Regions from separate parts of the Homo sapiens genome. Here regions 2 and 3 are each linked to region 1. The links come from fine-mapping of genetic effects on gene expression. A gene starts in region 1. Each other region holds a variant in brackets. All regions are shown on one strand. Distances are from middle to middle.

Evidence for each region. PIP is the estimated chance that this variant, and not a neighbour inherited with it, causes the effect.
Region 2: its variant is fine-mapped to the expression of ARSA in whole blood (INTERVAL, PIP 0.97).
Region 3: its variant is fine-mapped to the expression of ARSA in neural progenitor cells (Aygun 2021, PIP 0.95).

The regions. Positions count from the first base shown.
Region 1 is chr22:50,625,751-50,632,508 of GRCh38, forward strand. It overlaps ARSA (arylsulfatase A), which reads right to left and starts at 2,402. Exons shown (of 8, transcript NM_000487.6): 1 at 1,806-2,402; 2 at 1,416-1,656; 3 at 1,084-1,302; 4 at 841-1,010; 5 at 404-528; 6 at 186-313. The coding sequence starts at 2,029. LOC124905149 (a long non-coding RNA gene) reads left to right here and starts at 5,744. Exons shown (of 2, transcript XR_007068161.1): 1 at 5,744-6,758. RefSeq lists an enhancer at 580-1,362 and a silencer at 2,297-2,486.
Region 2 is chr22:50,597,907-50,608,755 of GRCh38, forward strand. It overlaps MAPK8IP2 (mitogen-activated protein kinase 8 interacting protein 2), which reads left to right and starts at 2,887. Exons shown (of 12, transcript NM_012324.6): 1 at 2,887-2,977; 2 at 3,883-3,988; 3 at 5,317-5,592; 4 at 5,720-5,813; 5 at 5,935-7,158; 6 at 7,462-7,537; 7 at 7,656-7,828; 8 at 7,919-8,028; 9 at 8,752-8,859; 10 at 9,015-9,085. The coding sequence starts at 2,913. RefSeq lists a silencer at 2,297-2,476 and an enhancer at 3,266-3,766. The variant C/T (reference allele first, on the strand shown) is at 5,007.
Region 3 is chr22:50,706,050-50,713,729 of GRCh38, forward strand. It overlaps SHANK3 (SH3 and multiple ankyrin repeat domains 3), which reads left to right. Exons shown (of 25, transcript NM_001372044.2): 20 at 23-103; 21 at 5,566-5,589. Among named protein-coding and RNA genes, the nearest start is that of ACR, 28 kb to the right of the region's middle. The variant A/G (reference allele first, on the strand shown) is at 2,538.

The DNA of each region.
Region 1 (6,758 bases):
CCTGGTGGGAGGCCCTGGACGTGCACCGCTTCTTGCCCACCCAGGAACCTGAGAGGTGGCGCCACTTGGATGCCACTCAGTGCAGGAGGCACTGAGGCACAGACTCTCAGGCACTGCCCACACTCACCCCAGGGGAAGGCCAGGACAGGGGCCAAGGATCTGGGATCAGGGGTCACCGGCCCTACCTTGCCTGTGCCCAGCAGCAGGGGGCTGAGGTCAAAGCCATCCAAGGTGACATTGGGCAGTGGGGCCCCAGCCAGGGCTGCCAGGGTAGGCAGCAGGTCCAGGGAGCTGGCCAGCTCGTGGGTCACGCCTGGGGGCAGGAGGCTGGTCAGTCACTCAGTTCGCCATCAAGGTTGGGGTGGTGGGGCCAGGGTTCCAAGGAGAGGGCCTGCGGACTGACCGGGAGCGATATGACCTGGCCAGAAGGCCAAGGCAGGCTCTCGGACACCGCCCTCGTAGGTCGTTCCCTTTCCACACCGCAAGAGACCGGAGCAGCCGCCTCGGGACATACGCATGGTCTCAGGTCTGGGACACAGGAGGCGCTCATGAGCCATGGAGCCACAGCCTCTGAGCCACCGAGGGTGACCAGTGGCCCCACACCTCTAAGTCACAAAGCTTGCCCGGAGGTGCCCAGCATGAGCCCGGCACCTCCCAGGCCTACCAAGACCAGCTCTCTGTGCACTGTGTCTCCTGACTACACCTTGGGCCCCTGCAACGTGGCCAGCATCTCCTGGCACCCCCTCACCCACTATGTTCTTGGCAAGCAGCTGAACTGCAAGGCCTCCAGGGCCCTGGCCCGTGACAGGGCCGGAGCACCCAGCTGCCCTGCTGGCATACCCATTGTCTGCAGTGAAGATGACCAGCGTCTCTTCAAGCAGCCCCAGGTCCCCTATGGCTGTCATCAGGGTCCCCACAGCTGCATCCAGCTCCATCAGGGAGTCCCCAAATGGCCCGCGGCCTGAACGCTCTGCAAAGCTCTGCCCACTGAACTGAGGGTAGTGGGTGTGCTGGGGGCAAAGACTGGAGTTAGCACTGGGTAGGGGTCACGGGCAGCCAGGGGGTTGGGCCAAGATCACTTACGTGAGAGGCATAGTACAGGAAGAAGGGGCGATCCTGGCGCTGGGCGTCGGCCATGAGGTCATGGGCGAAAGCCATGTAGCGGGCCTCTAGTCCGGGCAGCCAGGGGGGCTGCGCCTCCACGGACAGGTTGGCCAACAGTGGGATGGGGACCAGGCCCTGGTCACAGCCACCGTCGCAAGGAGTGGCCGGCGGGAAGCAGGTCAGGTTCTGGCAGGGGCCCTGAGGCGGGCAGCTGCCGTGAGGGCTGGGCTGGCAGGTGGGGCTGCGGGAGCATCAAGGGCTGGGGGACTTTGGGAGGTGGGAGGGTGGCTGAGGGCCCGGGTGGTTCCTACCTGGTCGTGGGAGTACGGGATGCCTAGAAATCGATGGAAGCCCTGATGGGGGGGCAGGAAGGCCCCCTCAGGCCCCACCCCAAGGTGCCACTTGCCGGCCATTCCTGTGAGGTAGCCTCGGGCAGCCAGGACTTCGGCCACGGTCACCTCCTCCAGGGGCAGGCCCCCCCGGGAGCTGGGCACCAGGACGCCAGGGTACATGCCCATCCGAACCGGGAGCCGGCCGGTCAGGAGGGCGGCCCTGCGGGACAAGTCACAGAGTCCCTGAGACAGACAGAAATGTGGCCTTCCCTAGAGAGAGAGACAGACGTTTTTCCCGCCCCCCTGCAATCCATTGGGAGGAAAGGGATGGAGGGTCGGGGCGGGGAAGAGGCGCGGCCCCCTCTTTACCTAGAGGGTGTGCACAGAGACACAGGCACGTAGAAGTCTGTGAACCGCAGCCCTCCCGCCGCCAGCTGGTCCAGGTTGGGAGTGGTAGAGCTGGGGTGCCCATAGCAGCCCAGGTCCCCATAGCCGAGGTCGTCGGCAAAGATCAGCACGATGTTGGGCGGACGGGCAACGGCCAGGCCAGCAGCCAGGGCCAGGAGGAGGGACCGCGGTGCCCCCATGGACATGGGACCGAGGGGTCTGTCCCAAGAGAGGGAGGGCTACTTGGCTCCAGCAGGCTCTTTCCGATACCGCAGACCCAGGCGCCGCCCTTCCCTGAGACCCCGGACCCAAATACTCCCCGACCCTGACGGCCGCCTCCTGAAGCTCCAGAGGGCCGGGGCCCGACAGTACCGGGAGACCGCGGGCTGGGACGGAACTCCTCCAGGACCAGGGCACCTTCAGATTCTCGAGCGGAGATCTGATCCTCCTCGCCTAGCGGTCCGGGCTCAGGGTCGGGGGCGTAAGTCACTTGGCGCTGACCAGCGGAGTCGGGCCGGGGGGAAGGCGCTAGAGGGAGCCCAGGAGGAGCCGGTACCGGGCTGCGGGCGCTTCCGCCTCGGCCCCGCCCCGTGACCTGTGACCCTTGCGGGGCGGGGCCGGGGGCGGGGCCGGGGGCGGGGCCGGGGGCGGGCCGGGGCGAGGGGCGTTGCTGCGCGTGCTCGCTCCGAGGCCGCCGTGTGCGCCTGAGGCTGTTGGCTGCGGTCTTGAAACGGGCTCTGGGAGCTTCCTCTGCGCGGTCGGCCCTGGCTGAGGCGTCCCGGGCTGCGCGCGGGGCTCGGCGCTGCGCAGTGTCCGGTGTCCTCTCGGTCCGGAGCTTCTCCAGAGGAGGAGCGGCTCGTGCGCCCCCAGACCTCCGGTACTGGGAGACTCGGGCCCTCCTGTAAGAGACCTGAGCGCGGAGCGTTATGGGCACCCGGTGAATGAGCAAATGGCAGGGAAAACCGTGCAGCCCCATGGACTGCGGGCTCTTCCTTCACGACTAGCAAAAGCTTTGACACCCTTTCTCCTGCGTACGCGTGTCTGTGTGCGTGTAAGCTGTGGCTGGGTGCGGGGGGCTGTGTACGTGTCTGTGTGTGGTGTGTGTGGAGTGTTTGAGGCAGGTGTGTGGTGTTTCAGGTGTGTGTGCATGTGTGGTGTTTGAGGTGTGTGTGTGTGTTTTTGTAGTGTTTGAGGGATATGTGTGTGTGGTGTTTGAGGTGGGTGTGTGGTGTTTGAGGGGTGTGTGTGTGTGGTTGAGGGGTGTGTTTGGTGTTTGAGGGGTGTGTGTGGTTGAGGTGTATGGTGGTTGAGGTGTGTGTAGTGTTTGAGGCACGTATGTGTGTGGTGTTGGGTGTGTGTGGTGTTAGAGGTGTGGCGTATGTGTGTTTGCGGTGGTTGAGGTGTGTGTGTGTGTCTGGTGTTTAGGGTGTGTCTGTTGTGTGCGTGTGGTGGTGGAGGCGTGGTGTGGTGTGGAATGTGTGTCTGGGGTCCAGTCTGGCCTGTTGCAGGGTTACGCTGCTGGGGAAAAACTCATCTGAGGACAACGTGATTGGGTCCTCGCTCCCTCGTTGGGCAGCCTTGGACTTAACCTTTTTGATCTTGAAGGAAAACACAATATGTCACCTCCAAATATATTTCCTTGACACGGTTCAAGACAGTTACTCAGAAGGACTGGAAATAGAAGAATAGCTGAAAAGCTGTCTTTTGTGGGGGAGATTTGCATCTGTGGAGAGAATCTACACTGATGCGGCCAGGCCTCCTCTGAGGCCCTCCTTGCCTGATCTGGGAAGAGTAACAGTCTGACGCCTTTAAAGGCCTGAAGGGAACATTCACCATCTGTTCTCTCTCAGGGCTGCTACCTGTGAGGTTTCATCTGTAGAACAAGGCCACCTTTGCTAGCCAGGCCTCCTCTGCTCTCCCTCCTGTAACCGGTCTTGCCACTGGTCACCTGATTTTCCACCATAAACTGTGGCCATACTTTGAGCCCATGTTCTTTCTGTAACCTCAAGATGGTATATAAGCTTCCGAACCCCATTGGGAGGTTGGGGTCATCACTCTGGTTCTCCCTGTGTGCATGAATAAATCTGTATGCCTTTTTTCTTACTAACCTGGCTTTTGTCAGTTGATTTTCTGTGAACTCAGAATGCAGAAAAGTTTTTCTCTAGGCTCCTACAGTTTTGGTGCAGTCGGTAGGATAACTAAAGTCACTCTCCTGGGAGCCTCCGTCAGGGGAACCCAGGAGCCGACAAGCTGGCAGAAAGAAGGGTAAGAAGGTCTTAGCAGCCAGGCTCCCGGCCTCTCTGGAATCTTGTCAAGCCGACGGTAAAAATGTCTGTTTACCTTGTTTTCCTCTTCAAAGTTTTAATGAGAGAAATGTATTTATGTGATTAGTTTTGTATTCATATTGTTTGATTGCTTTTTTTCCCCAGAAATAGTCGTCTTTCATTCTTGTCTTTCTGTGTTTTTCTGTCATAAAGAGGGTAGAACACAGGCCTAAAACCCCTGTAAACCCCGTCTTGGGGCCGTCCTGCAGGCTAGTCAGTTTTGCAGCTCTGATCGGATGCGTCTAGTTAGACAGACTTTGCTGTGGGTCCCTGAACTGAAAACTGGATGAGATTCTCCTCTCTTTTGATGTCCTTGAAAGCTTGAGTTGTGAGCGAGTGGGAATGATGCAGGCCAGGCAGACCCCAGAGTGGAGCTTAGCCAGTGAGGGTTTTGGCTTTGCCCAGGAAAGAATTCAAAGACAAGCCAGAGGTAGAAGAAAACAGCTTTATTGAACAGGTGGCGTTAGAGCTCTGTGACTGCTCCTGCAGAGCAGGGCCACCCCGTAGGCTGAGAGTAGCAGCTCAGGGCAGTTTTGCAGTCACATTTATACGCACTTTTGATTGCATGTAGATTAAAGGATGGTTTATGCAGAAGTTTCTAGGGAAGGAGTAGTCATCATTGGGTCATTGCCATGGAAAGGGGTGGCAACTCCTGGGTGTTGCCATGGCAATGGTAAACTGACATGGCACAGTGGCGGGCATATCTGACTGAAAGCTGCTATTGCCCCAACCCTGTTTTAGCCAATCCTCAACTGGGTCAACTAAGTCCCACCTCCTACCTCAGGAGCACTCTCTTGGCCTCTGCCAATCCGAGGTAGTGACTCGCAGGTCACATTTTGTGGTCAGTCTGAAAATGGTTGGGAACCCAAGACATTTAATATTTTAAGCAGCACCGTTTTTGTTCTGAATGTGTCAAGCTTTTAGTTTGTCTTAAGAAGTCCCTGCCAGGCGAGCTGTCAGAGCCCCGGCACTGGGAGTGGTGGTCAACTTGCGGGTTGGTAAAAAGAGTTTACCGACAATAGGTTTGAAAAAGGAAAGTTTGGCCGGGCATAGTGGCTCATGCTTGTACTCTCAGCACTTTGGAAGTCCAAGGTGGGTGGATCACCTGAGGTCAGGAGTTTGAGACCAGCCTGGCCAACATGGAGAAACCCTGTCTCTACTGAAAGTATAAAACTTAGCCAGGTGTGGTGGTGCGTGGCTGTAATCCCAGCTACTTGGAAGGCTGAGGCAGGAGAATTGCTTGAACCTGGGAGGCGGAGGTTGCAGTGAGCTGAGACAGAGCAAGACTGTCTCAAAAAAAAAAAGAAAAAAGAAAGTTTGCCGGGCACGGTGGCTCACGCCTGTAATCCCAGCACTTTGGGATGCTGAGGCAGGTGGATCACCTGAGGGCAGGAGTTCAAGACCAGCCTGGCCAACATGATGAAACCCCATCTCTACTAAAAATACAAAAAATTAGCTGGGCATGGTGTCGGGAGCCTGTATTCCCAGCTACTTGGGAGGCTGAGGCAGGAGAATCGCTTGAACCTGGGAGATGGAGGTTGTGGTGAGCTGAGATCATACCATTGCACTCCAGCCTGGGCAACAAGAGTGAAACTCCATCTCAAAAAAAAAAAAAAGAAAAAAAAAGAAAAGAAAGAAAGTTTATTAGAATGCTGCAGAAGAGTGCAATGAGGTGCCTCAGCAAGAGGACTGAGTACGCCGGGTGGATTTCTCCTTAAGGGCATTTATAGGCCTTAAAGTGGAGGCTTAACAGTAATTTGGACCATATTAGCCACGTAAGTCATGATAAATGATTACATTTATAGTAATTTTGGTGCCTTAATGTCAGCGACGGTTGTACAGTGAGTTTCGTCATGGTATTCTGGAGACACATAGAAATTATAGTTACTTACACGTTTTTTGGGGGAAGAAATCTGGAACCAGATGCCTGCTTTAGATAATAGGGAGGTTTAGTTACTTTTGATTTTCCCCAGATAAGGAGTTTTGCCTCGGAGGGCCTGTTTGATGTTTGATGGTCGCCAGGTGGTTTTTGCTCTCCTCAGGCCCATCCATAAGGGGCTTTTGTCATCCCAATGTTTGTTGCCTGGTCAGTCCTCAGAAAGCCCAATCCCAACAGGCCTACCCTGTGTTACAGGTTAATGGGTCTGTGACTGGCAGCCCCTGACAGATTGTGTGTTACTGGAGGCACTGTATGTACAAACACGTTCCTTAACTGTCTCTGGGAACAAGAGTCTTTTGCTGTCTTTGCCTATTCCTGGGAGTGAATTTTGGGGGCATCATTGGAACCTCCTCTTCTATGCCCTCTCTAAACCTGGAAAATAATCTTTTGGGCTTTCCATGAAGGGGCTTCTTGGATTGAGTTGCTATTGGAATAAATACATCATTGGAAATTCTGATTGTCAATAGCCAAAAGATGAATCCTTTACATTAGAAAGATCCCTAAATTAAAAAAAAAAAAAGATTTTAGAGGTCTCTCATTCTAAACAATTGCCTTATTTGTATTTGTGGGGAGATTAAAGGAAAGACACATAATAATGTTGTGGCTAGCCTTAGAAATCCTCTTCACAAAATTAAAGAGCAAAAATCTGACCTGTAACAAGTTAAAATCCTT
Region 2 (10,849 bases), 26 kb before region 1:
GGCAGGGGGATTCCTTGAGCCCAGGAGTTTGAGGCTACAGTGAGCTAGGGACACACCACTGCACTCCAGCCTGGGTGACAGAGTGAGACCCTGTCTCAAAAAAAAAAAAAAAAAAAAAGATTTTAAGCTTGCTGCAATTCCAGATGAAGGTAGATCCTGGAGGCACTTTGTGGGAGAGGTCACTACACTTGAGTATTAAAGACTGTTGACAGATCAGAAATCAAGGAACTGACTGACCAGGGTATTGGATGGGTCATTTATGTGGATGTCCAGATGAACCAGTTTGGTGAAAAGACTCAGGATCAAAAGCCAATCTGGAAAGTTGAGGTCAAACTCTCTGTGAAATCTGGGAAGGGATCTGGATTTTTTGGGAAAGGCAGGGAGTGGTTAATAGGCCCAGACTCCCTCAGAAATGGGGAATGTTCTTAGTGCTTCTAAAAGGGAAAAGACTGTTATGGCAAAGACCTGATGCCCCAGACTGGGTTAGAGACCATAAGCTCTCTCATTCATTCATTCACATGTCTGCTAAGCACCTACTGTTTGCCAGGCACCATGCTTGGAGCCTAGGGCTTCACAGAGAGATGACAGCCTCTCTTCTCTCCAGCCAACCCAAGTCAAGAAGGCAAGCATAAACTAGTAAATGGCTTTTTTTTTTTTTTTGAGATGGGATCTCACTCTGCCCCCCAGGTTGGATGCAGTGGTGTGATCTCAGCTCACTGCAACCTTTGCCTCCTGGGCTCGGCCAATTTTTTTTATTTTTGGTAGAGACATGTTTCCAGGCTGGTTTCAAACTCTTGAGCTCAAGTGACGCACCCACCTTGGCCTCCCAAAGTACTGGGATTACAGGTGTAAGTCACTGTGCCCAGCCAAGTAAATGCCATTCTTAGAAAAATACTGTAATTGGCATAAAATATAAATTGTGATGGGACACCAAAGAGTGCAGGTTCAATCAGGCCCTGGCCACAGGCCTCTCTCTGAGCTGGAATGGTGATACCCCCCTTCCCGACTTGCATGAGCTCCTTCTGCCATGTCGTTTCTGGTGTTTGTCACTCAAGTGCCTTGTCCTTTCCTAAGGAATAATTTTCCAGGCCAGGGGCGGTGGCTCACGCCTGTAATCCCAGCACTTTGGGAGGCCAAGGAGGGCAGATCACCTGAGGTCAGGAGTTTGGGACCAGCCTGGCCAACATGGCAAAAACCCATCTCTACTAAAAACACAAAAATTAGCCGGACATGGTGGTGATTGCCTGTAATCCCAGCTACTCGGGAGGCTGAGGCACGAGAATCGGTTGAACCCGGGAGGTGGAGGTTACAGTGAGCTGAGATCGTGCCACTACACTCCAGCCTGGGCAACAGAGCAAGTTCTGTCTCAAAAAAAAAAAAAAAAAAAAAAAAAAAAAAAAAAAAAAGAATTTTCCGCAGAACTAAGACATAAAGAAATCTTAGGGCACATAACTTTCATCAAGGGGGAAAAGGGATTGCGCTTTTGTTGAAATGCCAGCCTCCTTCTTTAGCCAATATTTAGCCAGGTGCTGTGGTTCACACCTGTAATCCCAGCACTTTGGGAGGCTGAGGCCAGAGGATAGCTGAGCCCAGGAGTTTGAGACCAACCTGGGCAATACAGAGAGAGCCGGTCTCTCTCTCTCTCTTTTTTTTTTTTTGAGACGGAGTCTTGCTCTTGCCAGGCTGGAGTGCAGTGGCGCAATCTCGTCTCACTGCAACCTCCGCTTCCCGGGTTCAAATGATTCTCCTGGCTCAGCCTCCCAAGTCGCCGGGACTACAGGCGCCCGCCACCACGCCCGGCTAATTTTTTTGTATTTTTAGTAAAGACGGGGTTTCACCATGTTGGCCAGGATGGTCTCTGGTCTCGATCTCTTGACGTCGTGATCCACCCGCCTTGGCCTCTCAAAGTGGTGGGATTGCAGGCGTGAGCCACCGCGCCCAGCCACCGGTCTCTATTTTAGAAAGAAAAAAAGTGTCCTGCAGTCTCTCCCTAGTTCTGCGCCCTCAACCCTGATCTCCCGCCTCCTCCCACAGCCACCGTCTCGAGCTCAGCTTCAACCATGGCCCTCCCCACAGGGCTCCATCCCAAGCCAGAGCGGGTCAGTTCCCTACACAGGGCCCAGCAACACGGTGCCCAAGAAAAAGTGTTTCCAGTGGGACGCATGTCGCCTCCGTGGGTGCTAACTTCTCCCAGTGCCCGTCGGTACGTCCGTCCGGCTGTGCAGTCTCTACTGAGTGCTCAAAGTCCACTTTTAGCCCCAGCCAGCATCCTCTGAGTACCTTGTGCTCGATTCTGAATCCAGCCCTGCTCGGCGACCCTCGTGCAGACGTCCCCGTGCAGCCCCGGTCAGCACCCCGTGGGGACAGCTCCGATCAGCACCCGACGGCGGACAGCTCCTCCCGCGCCTCCCGCCTCGCCCGCCACCCCGCTCCGGGCCGCACCCGGGTTAGGGTTCCTGGGGGGATCCTGGGCGCGGCGGCGCAGCTCCCGGGGCCGCCCCGGCCTCTCGCCCAGAGGAAACAGCCCACGGCGAACCCGAGGCCCGCGGACCCCGGCGCTGCCTCCTCGGCCTCCCGCCCCGCGCGGGTCCTCCAGGGCGGGGCCCGACGCCCACCCGCCCGCCCCTTCCCTCCCGCCCCTCCCCGGGAAAAATCCTCATCGCACGCCCGGCCCTTCCCCAACCAGCGCCCGGCAGTGAAGCCGCCGCCTCTCCTCCAACCAGCGTCCCCGGCCGCGTCCCTCCCCCGCCTCCCCCGCCGCCCTCCCCGCGCCGCCGCGGAGTCCGGGCGAGGTGCGCGGGGCGGACGCCGCAGGGCGTGTCACGAGGTGAGCGGGGCGGGCCGAGCGCCGGCGCGGGGCGCGGCGAGGCTCCCGCACCCCCCGCCGCAGTCGCGGGCCTCTCCCGGAGAAGATGGCGGATCGCGCGGAGATGTTTTCTCTCTCCACCTTCCACTCGCTGTCGCCGCCGGGCTGCAGGTACCCCCCTCGGCGCCCGGGCCGGGCGGACCCTCCGCTCCCTGCGCACCCCCCCGACCCCGACCCGGCCCGGACCCCCGTCCCCGCCGCCCCAGCCCCGCCGCCGGCGCGGACCCGGCCCCGGCCCCCTGCGGTCCCTGAGCCTCGGCTCGGGCGCCCCACCCCCACCCCGCTCCCACTCCCTCCATCTTCACCGCGCGTCCCCAGCCTCAGTGACCCCCGGGCCCCGCCGGGATTCTGAGCCGCGCCCGGCCTGGACGGCTGACCTGTCAAGGGTGGAGGCCCTGGGCCGACCCTCTGCGGGGGAGGATGCGGGCGGGATGCGGGCACACCCTCCCGGCGCGGCGTGTCCCGGTGGCCTTGGCCTCTTTCAGTGGACGCCAGACCTGGCCGATAGGGCCCGGCCGGGAGAGAGTGGAAATCAAGCCCGGAGCCCTGCGGGAAGGGACTGGGGTTGGGAGGACGCTGGGCCTCTGGGTTTAGGCCTCACTCCGCCGGAGAGGGGGAGACAAACAGGCCAGACTCTCTTCCCAGAGCAGGAGCGACCCCTCCCCATCTGCCGCTGCCGCGTTGCAGCTCCCCCTCCCCTGCTCTGCAAGACCCTGACCCCAGGGGCCTGGAGCTGCGAGTGGAGGGAGGAGAGGCTGCTGGCTCTCCAGGGAGGCGGGGTGGGAGGGGTGGGGGCAGGGTTGGCTCCTCCGGGCAGGCCTGGCTCAGATGGGGGAGGGGATCCACAGGCGAGCAGAGCTTGGGGGTCAAGATGATGGCAGGATGTGTTCCGAGAGCTGGGGGCTGTGGAAACCACTGGGTGTAGGAGCTGACGCCTCCCTCTGCCCCTCCTCAGGGCCAGTTGCCAGGCAGGGAGTCCAGGGTTGGTGGCTCTCTGACCCTGGTCTCCTTTCCAGGCCTCCCCAGGACATAAGCCTGGAAGAATTTGACGACGAAGATCTGTCTGAGATCACTGATGACTGTGGCCTGGGCCTCAGCTACGACTCAGACCACTGTGAGAAGGTGGGAGAAGAGTTGGGGACACAGATCCAGCTCAAGGGAGGGCCTCATTAGGTTCTTCTTAGCGTTCACTTGGGGTTTTAGGGTGGGTGTGAGCTCAGCCTTGAACCGGGGACTCCTCTGATGGCTCCTCCCCACTTAACCCTTGAGGTTTCCTTGGTATCAACTCTCTCTTATTCCAACACATTGCAGGCCTCCACGCAGGGCCTTCCCCAGCATTCTCCCCGACCCCATCGGTGGCCAGCCCGGGGCAGGGAGGTGCTCCTTTGCTTTGGGTGCCCTCTGTCCTCAGATCACTCCCAGAAAGATCTAATCCCTGGCAGCTGCCATCACAACCTTGTCCCCTCTGCAGCCCTGTGCCCTCGTCTGCAGCTCCCATCTGTCTGTTTCATGTCTCCCCCTGCTGAAATCTTTTCTCGTCCATCTCTTGCTTCTCCTCCTCCCTGTCTCTCCACATTTCTGCTTTCATTTATTGAAGAACATTTCTGAGCAACTGCCATGTGGCAAGTACTGGGGGCTTCTGGGTGCTGGGAGTGGAACAGGACAGCTGCTCTCTGGAGCTGCAACTTAGTAGGGGAGAAAGACTTGTAAGGGACAATGGCTGCCCACGTGTCAAGGGCTGCATTCCAACAGGGACATAAGTTCCACGAGGGGGAAGGGAACCCAATCCACACTGAAGGAATCAGGGAGAATTTCCAGAGGAAATGTCAACCATGCCCTGAGGTTAGCAGAGCCAGGCAGATGGGGTAGGTAGGAGGGAATGGAGGAGAGGAAGTGCCAGCATGGGGAATAACTGTGCCAATGGCCCTGGGGTTGGCGCAAAGTTGGTGAATCCTCAGAGTGCAGAGGCTGTCTCTCCATTTCTGCATCTGTTTGATGTTTACTGAACATCCGCTGAGCCCCAGGTCTTGTTCTTGGGGGCGGGTGCAACAGTGCATAACATGGACATGACCCTGCCCTGGTGGGGCTTGCAACAGACCAAAAACCATGTCCAGTAACTGTAAGTTGTGTTAAAACGCTG[C/T]GAAGGGAACACAGTGCTGGTGTCAAATGTGATGGGGTTCTGCAGTTAGATGAGTCTGAAAGTGGGGCTGGGGCTGCTCTGAGAATCCCTGTCATTCAGCTGTAGAGTTTAGGCCCTTCCCAAGAACTGGAGTGATCCCAATGTGTGTTAGGCAGATTTTGAAAACATCGCCCTGTAGACAGAGGGGCAGAGTGAGCTGGAAGGGGCTCTCCTTTGACTGATGCTCCCCGATTTCCCTTCTCCTAGCACCTGGGCCCCTGGGCTACTGCTGCCCTCTGGCCCAGCCCTGCTATCTCCCTCCGTCCTGCAGGACAGCCTCTCCCTGGGGCGCTCGGAGCAGCCGCACCCCATCTGCTCCTTCCAGGATGACTTCCAGGAGTTTGAGATGATCGATGACAATGAAGAGGAGGACGATGAGGACGAGGAAGAGGAGGAGGAGGAGGAGGAGGGAGATGGGGAAGGCCAGGAGGGAGGAGACCCTGGCTCAGAGGCACCTGCCCCCGGGCCCCTTATCCCCTCCCCTTCCGTGGAGGAGCCCCACAAGCACCGGCCCACCACCCTCCGTCTGACCACACTGGGGGCCCAGGTGAGTGCCCGGACCCACAGCTCCCTGGAGCTGAGCCTGGGTTCATAGCACCTGGGCTGCAGCCAGCCCTGCTCACCCCCTGGGAGCTGGCCCTCCTCAGGACCGCCGTCATGTATCTCCACCCCAGGACTCCCTAAACAACAACGGAGGCTTTGACCTGGTGCGTCCGGCCTCCTGGCAGGAGACAGCGCTATGCTCACCCGCCCCGGAGGCCCTCAGAGGTGAGGGGTGGTGGGCCCGCGGGGCGCGGGGAAGCGGGGGAGGAGGGCAGGGAGGATGGACTGGCTGCTGGAAGAGGCCTGGGTGGTGCAGAGAGGGTGACCCCACCTCCCTGCCCAGCAGAGCTCCCGGGCCCCCTCCCTGCCACGGACACCGGGCCCGGCGGGGCGCAGTCGCCAGTGCGCCCGGGTTGCGACTGCGAAGGGAACCGGCCTGCGGAACCCCCTGCGCCAGGGGGGACTTCGCCCTCCTCAGATCCCGGCATCGAGGCTGACCTGAGAAGCCGCTCGAGCGGCGGCCGCGGGGGACGTCGCAGCAGCCAGGAGCTGTCCTCGCCCGGCTCCGACTCGGAGGACGCGGGCGGCGCGCGCCTGGGGCGCATGATCTCGTCCATCTCGGAGACGGAGCTGGAGCTGAGCAGCGATGGCGGAAGCAGCAGCAGCGGCCGCTCCTCGCACCTCACCAACTCCATCGAGGAGGCCTCGTCGCCCGCCTCGGAGCCGGAGCCCCCGCGCGAACCCCCGCGCCGCCCCGCCTTCCTGCCCGTGGGCCCCGACGACACCAACAGCGAGTACGAGTCGGGGTCGGAGTCGGAGCCGGACCTCAGCGAGGACGCGGACTCGCCCTGGCTGCTCAGCAACCTGGTGAGCCGCATGATCTCCGAGGGCTCCTCGCCCATCCGCTGCCCCGGCCAGTGCCTGTCTCCTGCGCCGCGCCCGCCCGGGGAGCCCGTGTCGCCGGCCGGCGGGGCCGCCCAGGACTCCCAGGACCCCGAGGCGGCCGCGGGGCCCGGCGGCGTGGAGCTGGTGGACATGGAGACGCTGTGCGCGCCGCCGCCGCCCGCGCCCGCCGCGCCTCGACCCGGCCCCGCGCAGCCCGGGCCCTGCCTATTCCTCAGCAACCCCACGCGTGACACCATCACGCCGCTGTGGGCCGCGCCCGGCCGCGCCGCCCGCCCGGGACGAGCCTGCTCCGCCGCCTGCTCCGAGGAGGAGGACGAAGAGGACGACGAGGAAGAGGAGGATGCCGAGGACAGTGCGGGGTCCCCCGGGGGCAGGGGCACGGGCCCCTCGGCGCCGCGGGACGCGTCGCTGGTGTACGACGCGGTCAAGTACACGCTGGTGGTGGATGAGCACACGCAGCTGGAGCTGGTGAGCCTGCGGCGCTGTGCTGGGCTGGGCCACGACAGCGAAGAGGACAGCGGCGGGGAGGCCAGCGAGGAGGAGGCGGGCGCGGCGCTGCTAGGCGGCGGTCAGGTCTCGGGGGACACCTCGCCGGACAGCCCTGACCTCACTTTCTCCAAGAAGTTCCTCAATGTCTTCGTCAACAGCACATCTCGGTCCTCCAGTGAGTGAGAGGTGGGGAAAAGGGGGGTGGCCCAGAGGAAGGTGCAGACTCCCTGGCCCCAGTCCCAGGGTCCCCCACAGTGCCCAGGGCCACCTGAGGGTCTGGCTGTGGTCAGGGCTGGGTGCCCTCTCCCACCCAGGACATGGCATGAGGTGGCCTGCTCTGCCTCAGCTCCTTCCCGCTCGTAGGACACCTACACCGGACTGTGGAGGGGACTTGGCCTCTGCCCAAGGCCAGGCCTCTAAGCACTACTCTGACTCTGTCTCCCTGTCTCCCCCGCCTCTGTCCTGCCGGGTCTCCCAGGCACCGAGTCCTTTGGCCTTTTCTCCTGTCTGGTCAACGGCGAGGAGCGAGAGCAGACTCACCGGGCTGTGTTCAGGTACGGCCTCCCTCCTTGCTGGCGGTGGCCCCAGCCTCAGTCCCTGCCATCACGGAACGCCAGTGGACACGACCGTCAATCCCGCCCCCCTCCCCAGTGACCTCTCCCCCAACGGCAGGTTCATCCCGCGGCATCCAGACGAGCTGGAGCTGGATGTGGATGACCCTGTGTTGGTGGAGGCCGAGGAGGACGACTTCTGGTTCCGTGGCTTCAACATGCGCACGGGGGAGCGCGGTGTGTTTCCTGCCTTCTACGCCCATGCGGTGCCCGGCCCTGCCAAGGACCTGCTGGGTGAGGTCCCAACCCCGAGGGGAGGCTTTTCACCCCAGATCCTCCCCTGTGCCCCTGCCTGACCTGGGCCCTCTGTGCCCCGCTCCCCAGGGAGTAAGCGGAGCCCCTGCTGGGTGGAGCGCTTTGACGTGCAGTTCCTGGGCTCCGTGGAGGTGCCCTGCCACCAGGGCAACGGCATCCTGTGTGCAGCCATGCAGAAGGTCAGTGTGGAGGCCGGGCAAGTGCAGGCTGAGGGTCCGCTTGGCGGCCACACCAGCACTGCAGGCTGGCACAGGGCTTGAGGCTCCAAGGTCTGAGGTCTGATTTCCTCCAGGGAGGGTCTGGGGGATGCTGCAGGGGGAGCTCGGGGTGGGTACCCCAGGCCCTGGTTCAGAGGCCTGAGCAGGTGAGTCTAGGGCAGAGCACAGCAGCTGTCCCTCATCACCTCTGGGTCTCTGGGCCACAGATCTTCCAGGTGGCCCCGACTGCCATCAGCCCTTCCTCTTCCCATCTGGAATCAAGACCAGCCCTCACAGCCCCTTCCCTGGGAGCCCTCTACTCATCCACTCACTCAGTGGACGTTTAGTGAGCACCTGCCCAGGCACCAGTACTGAGGCTGAGGCTGGGGGGCAGTAGGGAGCAGGGCAGAGCAGCCCAGGGCGGGTGAGGTCTCTGTTCCTGGCTCCTGAGCCAAGCGCAGCAGCCTGCCTGGAGGAGCAGAAGGAAGATGAAGCAAGCTGACTGCAGAGAGGCGATTGCTCCTCCTGAGCCTGAGGAGTGGCCAAGGCCACACCCCTTATGTCTTCCAGAATTGCATCTCAGGGTCCTCAGCATGTGTGTCCTCAAACATAAGCTAAAAGGAGCAGAGGCGTAGTCCCACCAAGGGGAAAGAAAGGCCCTTGTGGGCTCCTCAAGACCCTCTTCTCCCCCAACTTCTTCTGTAGATTGCCACTGCCCGGAAACTGACCGTCCACCTGCGCCCTCCTGCCTCCTGTGACCTCGAGATCTCTCTTCGGGGGGTCAAGCTGAGTCTGAGCGGAGGAGGGCCCGAGGTGGGAGTGTGGGGGACTGGGGACCGGGGACTGGGGGATAGGGTTAGGCCACGGAGTCCGACGGGGCCAGGCTGGCAGGGGTGTCCAGTAGGTGGGAGGCAGGGGTGGCGCCAGGCCTCCTTTGACACAGGGACTTCTGCCCACCTCTGCTCTAGTTCCAGCGCTGCAGCCATTTCTTCCAGATGAAGAACATCTCCTTCTGCGGCTGCCATCCCCGCAACAGCTGGTGAGAGTCTGACCGTCCCCGAGTCCCCCAACCGCCCCCACAAACCCTGAGAGTCCAACCGCCCCCTGAGTCCCCACAGACCCTGAGGGCTGCCCGTGCCCAGCCCTGAGAGCTCCACCTGCACCCACTTAGCTCTGTGAGCTGAGCCTGCAGTGGCGCCTGCTCTGAGCTGGACTCAGGAGGCGTGGGTCAGACAGGCTTGCATCCAGTCTGGGTGGAGAGAGGCACACGGGCGAAGGATGTGAGAAGCCTGTGTGGGTGCAGAGGACGCCTGAGTGGGCCTGGGGCTCAGGATGGCCAGCCTGGAAACACAGCAGGTGACAGCGGTGGGGAAGTGGATCTTCCTGGTGGGGTCTAGCTGAGCCAAGGGTGTGGGATGCACTGGTCGGGGGCTATATAGGCTCTGGGGCCCGCGTGTAAGGGGAGCAGCTAGAAATGCCGGGGAAGACCTGGACCCTTTTGATTATGCCAAGGAGCTGTACTTAATCTTGCTGGTAATGAGGCCATAGAAGGCTCCTAATGGAAGGAGGTGACACAGGGGACCTGGGGGCTGCTGAGGTTATACAGGTGCTATGTCCTGAGACCAAGTGTGCAGATGCAAGAGGCACTGAAGAGGCAGTACAGGCAGGACCTAGGTTGACCGGCTGTAGAGGGTGACCTGGAAGAGACCAGGGTGACGTCTCCCTGGGGGATGGTTGTACTGCAGCCCACACACCGAGAGGGGATGCGGGATCAATCACAAACGGTGAGACTGAAGTGGCCGTTGGTCCCATGGGTCTGGAGTTTAGGAGGGAGACCTGGAGGGAAGATACCAGGTCAGAGCAGGTAGATCACTGAGACGAGAGGGGAATGGCCAGGCAGGGTGAGGGGAGGAGGGGAGGAGGAGGTGCTGGCATAGGAGCAGCAGGCCAAGGGGGGCTGCCAGCTTCCCTCCAGGCACAGGCCCCTGCCCTCTGTGTCCCAGCACCCTAGAGGAAGGAGATCTGGGAGGAACCAGAGAGGCAGAGCCAGCCAGAGGCTGGAAAGGACTTGCGGGGAGTTGGAGGAAGCAGGCTCACAGACAGGCAAGACACAGCAGGGCACGGTGCTGCCAGGACTGAGGCGTGGGACAGACGTCAGTGCATCTTGGGGGCCTTGTGGACTCTCCCTGTGGTCGAGAGTGAGGGTGCTGCCTGCTGGAAGGTGCGGAGCCCTTTTGTGTTGTCCCCGCCGAGTGCAGAGATGGTCTGATGGGATCCATGCGGAAACGCTGCTCAGTGGGGTGGAGAGGTGGGACAGCGGGCAGCGATGCAGACCAGACTGCGGGGCCAGCTCTGGGGTGGAGAGGTGGGACAGCGGGCAGGGGCGCAGACCAGACAGCGGGGCCAGCTCTGGGGTGGAAAGGTGGGACAGTGGGCAGGGGCGCAGACCAGACAGTGGGGCCAGCTCTGGGGTCACCAGGACAGCGAACGGGGCGCAGACCAGACAGCAGGGACAGCTCTGGGGTGGAGAGGTGGGACAGCGGGCAGGGGCGCAGACCAGACAGCGGGGCCAGCTCTGGGGTGGAGAGGTGGGACAGTGGGCAGGGGCGCAGACCAGACAGTGGGGCCAGCTCTGGGGTCACCGGGACAGCGAACGGGGCGCAGACCAGACAGCAGGGACAGCTCTGGGGTGGAGAGGTGGGACAGCGGGCAGGGGCGCAGACCAGACAGCAGGGACAGCTCTGGGGTGGAGAGGTGGGACAGTGGGCACGGGCGCAGACCAGACAGTGGGGCCAGCTCTGGG
Region 3 (7,680 bases), 81 kb after region 1:
AAGGCCTCCCTCTTCTTTGCAGCCCCACCGCCCCCCAAGAGGGCCCCCAGCACCACACTGACCCTGCGCTCCAAGTCCATGACAGCTGAGCTCGAGGAACTTGGTGAGTGGCGGGGGTGGCGGTGGAGGTGGACGCAGGTGGACGGTCCATGATGGGCAGACAGGGCCGGGAGACACAGGTGGTACGGGAGGGCAGGCGGTCCAGCCAGAGGGTAGGAAGGACAGGTGGGTACAAGAGCAGGTCAGAGGTGAATGGGTGGGTGCTGGCGCGATGGGGAAATTTGGTGCTTGTGGGGTGAGGAGAGGGTGGCATGTGGAAGGGGTGAGATGTGAGAGGCTGGGGATGGACAGTGGGGTGTCCAGGACAGATGACGGGGAGCAGGGCCTGGCCCACCAGTATGTTTGCATGTGTGTGCATGTGTGTGCGTGTGCTGCCTCTGGTTTTCCACGTCTCCACTTTGACTTTACTCCTGCATTTCATCCAAGTGAGGAGAGAGCGGTAGTGAGGTGACCAGGGTCTGCTGCTGGCTCTGCCAGGCACTGGCTGTGTCAGCTCTGTGTTTATTTTACCCTCTTGGTGACTGTGCACTCATTGACAGGTGGCCCTGCTGACCCCACAGGCCACAGGAGTACTGTCGGTGGGATGATGGGGCAGGGCCTCGAGCGCGGCAGGAGGGGAGCAGGAGTGTGTTGGGGTTTGATGGGGCATGTTCTGGGCACAAGCCCTGGTTGACCATCAACAGCCTCTTCATGGGCAGGTCTTATATATGTGTCCATTAACAACCTTGTCATGTGCACGTCCAGATATACTTGATCATGTCCTGACGTGACAGTCAGTAGCCTCTTCATGGGACTGTCCCATTACGTGTGACCGTTGTCCTCACTGTGGGTATGTGCTATACATGTGGCCATCAACAGCCTCGTCATGGGCATGTCCCACTGTACGTGACAGTTGACAGGCTCTTTCTTTCTTTTTTTTTTTCTTTTTTTTTTTTTTTGAGACAGTTTCACTCTTGTTGCCCAGGCTGGAGTGCAATGACACGTTCTCGGCTCACTGCAACCTCCACTTCTTGGGTTCAAGTGATTCTCCTGCCTCAGCCTCCCAAGTAGCTGGGATTACAGGCACCCGCCACCATGCACGGCTAATTTTTTTTTTTTTTTTTTTGTATTTTTAGTAGAGGCGGGGTGTCACCATGTTGGCCGGGCTGGTCTCGAACTCCTGACCTCAGGTAATCTGCCTGCCTCGGCCTCCCAAAGTGCTGGGATTACAGGCGTGAGGCTCTTTCTTTCTGTGATCTGAGCCCAGTTCTGTTCCCAGACTTAACTCTGCCTCTGGTCATAGAAGGAACCCCAACTTTGGTCCTAAACTGAACCCTGAAGTCCTGGCCACAGGAAGGGACCCCATTCTGGTTCTAGGCTGAGCCCTATCCCTGGCTTCAGTCTTGGTTCTACCCCAGCCATAGAAGGAACCCTTTTCCTGGTCCCCAGAATTATCCCTGACCTCACTCATGAACCAAGCCCTGACCCTGTCCTTGCCACAGGCTGAGCTGCCCCATGCCAAGCAGGTGGTCTTAACTGCAGTTTAGTTCAGGGTGGAGAACAGCTACCAACGTCCATTGGGCTGACGTGGTCAGAATTTTCACCATAGCTATTCCAAATAAAATAAAACCCAAAGAAAAAAACAAAAAACCCCATGTAGATAATTCAGAATGAAAAGGAGAGAAACCAAAGCCAGAGGCTTCCATAGCTCGTTATCTAGTACGCAGGGGCAAGGGGTTGGGGTCCTGAGGCCCCCACAAGGCTGGGAGACGTGGCTGGACCTGTGAGAAGCGGGAAGGTTAAAAACCAAGCCCAACCACTGGAATTAGCTTCGAAAGAACTGGAAATCAGAGAAGAATATGAAAAACATTAAAATAAAGTAAATTGTCACAAAGATTAAAAGAACTAACAGAACTAATGAGAGAATAGGACAGAACAAACAAGCAAAAAAAGAATAAGCACATTTTAGAATGATTCTTTTTTTTTTTTTTTTTTTTTTAGACTGAGTCTCGTTCTATTACCAGCTGGAGTGCAGTGGCGCGATCTCGGCTCACTGCATCCTCCGCCTCCCGGGTTCAAGTGATTCTCTTGGCTCAGCCTCCTGAGTAGCTGGGATTACAGGCGCACAACACCACACCCAGCTAATTTTTTGTATTTTTAGTAGAGATGGGGTTTCACCATGTTGGCCAGGCTGGTCTCGAACTGCTGACCTTGTGATTCACCTGCCTCGGCCTCCCAAAGTGCTGGGATTACAGGCGTGAGCCACTGCGCCCAGCCAGAAGGATTCTTAAAGAACTGTTATTGAAACAAAAAGTGTAGTCACTGAGATAAAAAAGAAAGCCATGCCTGGGATAAACAGTACACTAGACCCAGGTGAAGAAAGAAACAGCAAGTTAGAAGATAAATCTGAGGTTACCCAGAATATAGCACAGAAATATAAGGAGATAGAAAATATCAAAGAGCAGTTAGGACACACACACACAAAAATCACATAGATA[A/G]TTCAATGGGACTATTGGGAAAATCCCAGCATCTACCTAATGCAAGGCGTGGAAGCAAAAATAAAATGTTGCCTGGAGGCAATATTTGGAGATGAGATGGCTTAAGAATTTCCGAAAGTTGAACAAAGACATGAGTCTTCAGTTTAAAGAAATATAAGTCTCAGCAAGGAAATAAAAACAAATCTGTATCCACATCTTTCATAGTAAAACTGTAGAATGCTGTGAGCAAGCAGAAATCTTTAAAACAATGAGAGAGGCTGGGTGCGGTGGCTCATGCCTGTACTCTCAGCACTCTGGGAGGCCAAGACAGGTGGATCACTTGAGTCTAGGAGTTTGAGACCAGCCTGGGGAACATGGCGAAACCCTATCTCTACTAAAAATACAAAAATTATCCTGGCATGGTGGTGTGTGCCTGTGGTCCCAGCTACTCAGGAGGCTGAGGTGGGAGGATTGCTTAAGCCTGGGACGTGGAGGTTGCAGTGAGCCAAGATCATGCCAGTGCACTCCAGCCTGGGCAACAGAGCGAGACCCTGTCTCAAAACAAAACAAAGCAAAAAATGATGAGAGAGAGAGAGAGATGGGCTGCTGGATGTCTTAGACGGGAGCAGTGGTCCAACTGACAACAGACTTCTCATCAGCAGTGGCAGATGACAGTAGATGATGGAAGAAGAGCTTCAAAGTGTGGAGTCAAAATTCTTTTCCACCTAGAATTCTATACCCCGCTAATCCTGCTCATTCAGGAGTGAGGCAGAGAGGCTAATCCTAGACCTCTGGCACTCGGGTCATGAGGGTCCAAGGTCAGTCACGGGGAGCTGACCTGTCAATTGAAGATCCAAACTGATCAATAAGCCAGCACCAGTAGGCAGCTGGGTCCCAGGATTCTCCTGCCAGAGGCTGTCACATAGCCACAGTCAGCTGCATGTTCAGAAGGGACTCTTCTATTCAGCACCACGGGGCTTTTGGGCAGCCTGAGATCCGTAATCCTGGGACCCAGGGACTCTGCCCTATGGAAACGGAAGGACTGCGCTTTGCTCTCTGGGCTTTTCTGCCTGAAGAAACTGGTGAATGAAGACGCTCCTTTCCCTCCCCTCTGGGCTGAGTGTTCCCTCTTCTGCAACAAGCCTCAGGACAGGTTGCTGGAGTCACTTTGCAGAGCCCGGTCTTCCAGAGGAGTTGCTCACAGCTTCAGGCCACCATAATTTTCCAGGCTTTTTTCTGAGCAGAGTCTGGGGGAGGATGAAGGGACAGCTTAGCGCAGAGCCTCTACCCACACTTCTGGAGCTCAGGAAGCCACCCTGTCCCCAGAAGACAGCTGTCCTGGGAAGCCAGCAGGGCTTCTGGAAGTCCCCTCTGGAAATGCCTGATTTGAGGACGCCATGCCAGCATCAGGGTTTCCCCAGGTACCTAAGGGACCATCCCACAACCCAGTGTTTTTGCTTTCAGAAGATAGAAATGAGGCCTGTTGGTCACTGCTGGCATGAACACATCAGAACTGCCTCACACTGTCAAGAGCTATTAGAGCCCTTTAGGATCCATAGTCTATCGAGAAGGTGCCTGGACACCTAAAAAGAAAAGAAAGTGAGGTGTCAGAGAAAGCAGGTGCAAGTCGGAGGCTCCTGTCCAGGTGGCTGTTTGCTGCTCGGAGGATGTGGGAGAGGCATGGCCCTGTTGGAGGAAGGGGAGGGAAGGGGTATCCTGTGGGGGAATGGGGTGAGCAAAGGCTGGTGCCTGGAAAATGGAGGGTTGCAGAGCTGGGAGTGAGAGGAAGGGGCTGGGTGGGGACCCTCCTGAGATAGGTGGTGAGAGAGAGAAGAGGGCAGAACACCCCTCCTCCCCTCAGCACTGGGGGCTCCTCATGGTCGCCACATGCATGTCTGCTCGGTTTGTACCAGGAATGTGCTGGGGCCACAGGTCAGTGGAGACCCAGGCCAGGGAAGGCCCTGTGGCGGGTCCAAGCCCTTCCTGTGTATTCACGTTCCCGGGAGAACTCTGGACTTCCCTGTAATTTCTGGGCCCCTTTTTCTTTTGTGATGAGAACATCAGGGTAGGTGCCACACCCAGCATCTATGTGAGTGGCCTTGTCCTGGAAAAGGTTTCTGTGCCAAACACACTTGCCCTGCCTTTTAAGACCGACTTTGAACAGAACACAGAGGTGACCACCTTAATTTTCAGCGACACCTGAACTTGTTTTCTATGGGGTTTTGCCTTTTTTCTGAACAAACGTTTGACTGAGCCAAGCATGATGGAGTTGTGCATATCTGTGTGTGTGTGCGTGTCTGTGCGTTGGTGAGCGGACACGCGCTGTCTGCACCTGCGTGCATGCGGCACACATGTCTGTGCGTGGGTGAGTGGACACGTGCTGTGTGCACCTGCATGCGTGTGGCACACGTGTGTGCATGGGTGAGCGGATACGCACTGTGTGCGCCTGCATGCGTGTGGCACACATGTCTGTGCGTGGGTGAGCAGACGCGCTGTGTGCACCTGCATGCGTGTGGCACACGTGTGTGCGTGGGTGAGCGGATACGCGCTGTATGCACCTGCGTGCATGCAGCACACGTCTGTGCGTGGGTGAGCGGATACGCGCTGTGTGCGCCTGCATGCGTGTGGCACACGTCTGTGCGTGGGTGAGCGGATATGCAGTGTGCGCCTGCATGCGTGTGGCACACGTGTGTGCGTGGGTGAGCGGATACGCGCTGTGTGCCCCTGCGTGCATGCAGCACACATGTCTGTGCGTGGGTGAGTGGACATGCGCTGTGTGCACCTGCATGCATGTGGCACACACACACAAGTCCCTGCTTGTGGTTGTTTCCTCCTTGGCTTTCAAGGCATGTACCAACTGACTCCAGAGTTGGGCAGATTTGCTATTCACGGTCTGATAAAGAGGTGTAGGCTGGGGGCAGATTTGGGAGGTCATGGTTTTTGGGGGAGGTGGTGGTGAGAGGGATGGGGTGGGGAAATGAGTGTGGATAATGGGGCCCGGGTGCCGAGCCTGCCTCTTACTCCCTTTACTCTGTTTCTTGATTCCAAGCCTCCATTCGGAGAAGAAAAGGGGGTGAGTCATCTGCCTGTGTCCCCAGGGCCTTGGCTTTGCCTGACCCCTGTCTGGGGGAGTGCTGGTGTGTGAGGAGGTTCCAGCGCAAGTCAGGGTGGCCTGGAAGCCTGGGCTGCACCCTCCTGTTGGCCTTCTCCCTGGGCATCTGGTAGGGGCATGAGAGAAGGGCCTGCAAGGATGGATGGGGAGTTCCCAGGGGTGTGACCCTCTGAGACTGTGATGGCCTTGGGGGCTCAGGTGAGCCTGGGGCCTGTGAGCTGTGCAGATAGCCTGATGGAGGCAGCCCGTGGGGAGGAGCTGGGAGAGCCCCGTGGAGGCCACTGCATGCACCATGGCCCGGACAGCAGGAGGGAAAGGGCTCCGAGGGTCCCAGAGGGGGAGCTCTAGGGAGCAGGGAGACTGGGCCGTGTTGGCGTGCACGTTGCTTCTTTCTGCTGGTCCTCTCGGGGCCTGTGCTTGGGTTGTGGGACCTACTCCCGTGCTGGTTGGTTGTAGGGCCAAGCCCAGAGCTGATGGTCCCTTCAGAGCAGGGGTCTGAGTCCCACAGCACTGGGGAAGGAGCTTGGAGCTCCCCTGGCCAAAGACCCCAGGCTGTTGACTACCCTCCTGAACCCCCGTTCAGGCCTCCCTCTACCCTTTGGGGCTGCTCCCTGTATGTCCTTTATGTTCAGCCTGGTTGCAGGGGAGGGCGCATTCAGGTGGGGACAGTCACCTGGGCCTGGGTACTGAGGTCCACTGTCTGGTGAAGTCCTGGGACCCGGCTTCCGGCAGCCTCCTCTGCCTCTCGGGTGGATGGGAATCAGGGCCCAGACAGAGGCTTGAGGTGGCTTTCTCCACCCAGGCCTGTATATTTGCTCCACGTCCGTGTACCTGATGCCCATCCCTCCCTCTCTCTCGACCCACTGGGCTTTCCCTGGGTGAGGACACATCTGCCAGGCCCTTGGCCCAGCCCTCTTGAGGTCCCCTTGCTGCCTCTTGCCCCAGCCCAGGTGAAGGGCTTCCCCAGTGTCTTCTCAGGTATTAAAAACAGGTGACAAGGTCTCCTCCAGTGACCTTTTCTGCATGCCTTTGGGGCAGACATACAAGCTATTTCTGGAATCTTCTGGCTCTGCCCTCTAGCTCGTTAGTGGGGCTCCCAGGGTGCTGTGTTGCAGCCCAGGTGCTGCTCCAGTTGTGGAAGAAGTGATGGCTGGTTGATCATCCCGCAGGCTGGGGCCCTGTTGATCAAACAGCTGCAAACCCAGCTGTGTCCTGCTGTGCACCCAGAGGGCCCTGGGAGTGAGCGGGTCCACTTGGTTCCTGATGGGCTTTGTTTCCCTTAATTATCTAAAATTATTTATTTAAGAATATATCCTCTAATATTGGGGGGAGATTTATGTCAACCTCATCAGTTTGTAATTTGCAGAATTCTTGATGAATCCTTTCCCTTTTGAAAACACTTCTCACCCGGCTCCAGCACCATCGCCGGATGACCAGAAACAGCTGCTCACTAAACGTTATGTGCGTCCCGCTGTGGGTCTCTGGGATGGGTCTTCCAGACCTAGAGAGACAGCCTCTCCTAGCCCGTGGCTCAGGCGGCAACGTGTCTCCCATGATGCTGAGCCGTGTGTGCCTCACGGAGTTTTCTCTCCATTCATATCTTTACTTCTGCAGTTTCCGGGGAGTATGGTGCTTAAGTCTCATCTCTTACTTCCTAGTCAGAGATTTATGGCAATTTCGCTTCAGTTTGCTCCTGGGTTGGATAAGGGTGATGATAAAATCCTCGTGTAGTTGTGGGATGAGAGGAGTGGTTTGCATAAAGTCCCGCATACTCTAGAAATCACCAAGAACTTAACAGATGGTGGCAATGGTGACTTCAACTCCCAAAAAGAAATCATTCACTTCATGACAAAAGCAAATGAGAAGTCCCCTCAAACCAGCAGCCCCTGGTCTGTACCTGGGCCCCTGTCACCTGGTGGCACTGGGAGCTGTGCACAGGCCCAGATATCTGCAGTTGGAGCCTGTTTTGCTGGTAAACTCTTGTATCGTTCAGGACACAGGCTGGGCGCTGATGGAACACAGAGAACAGTATTTGCTCTGTTCTGCAGACCC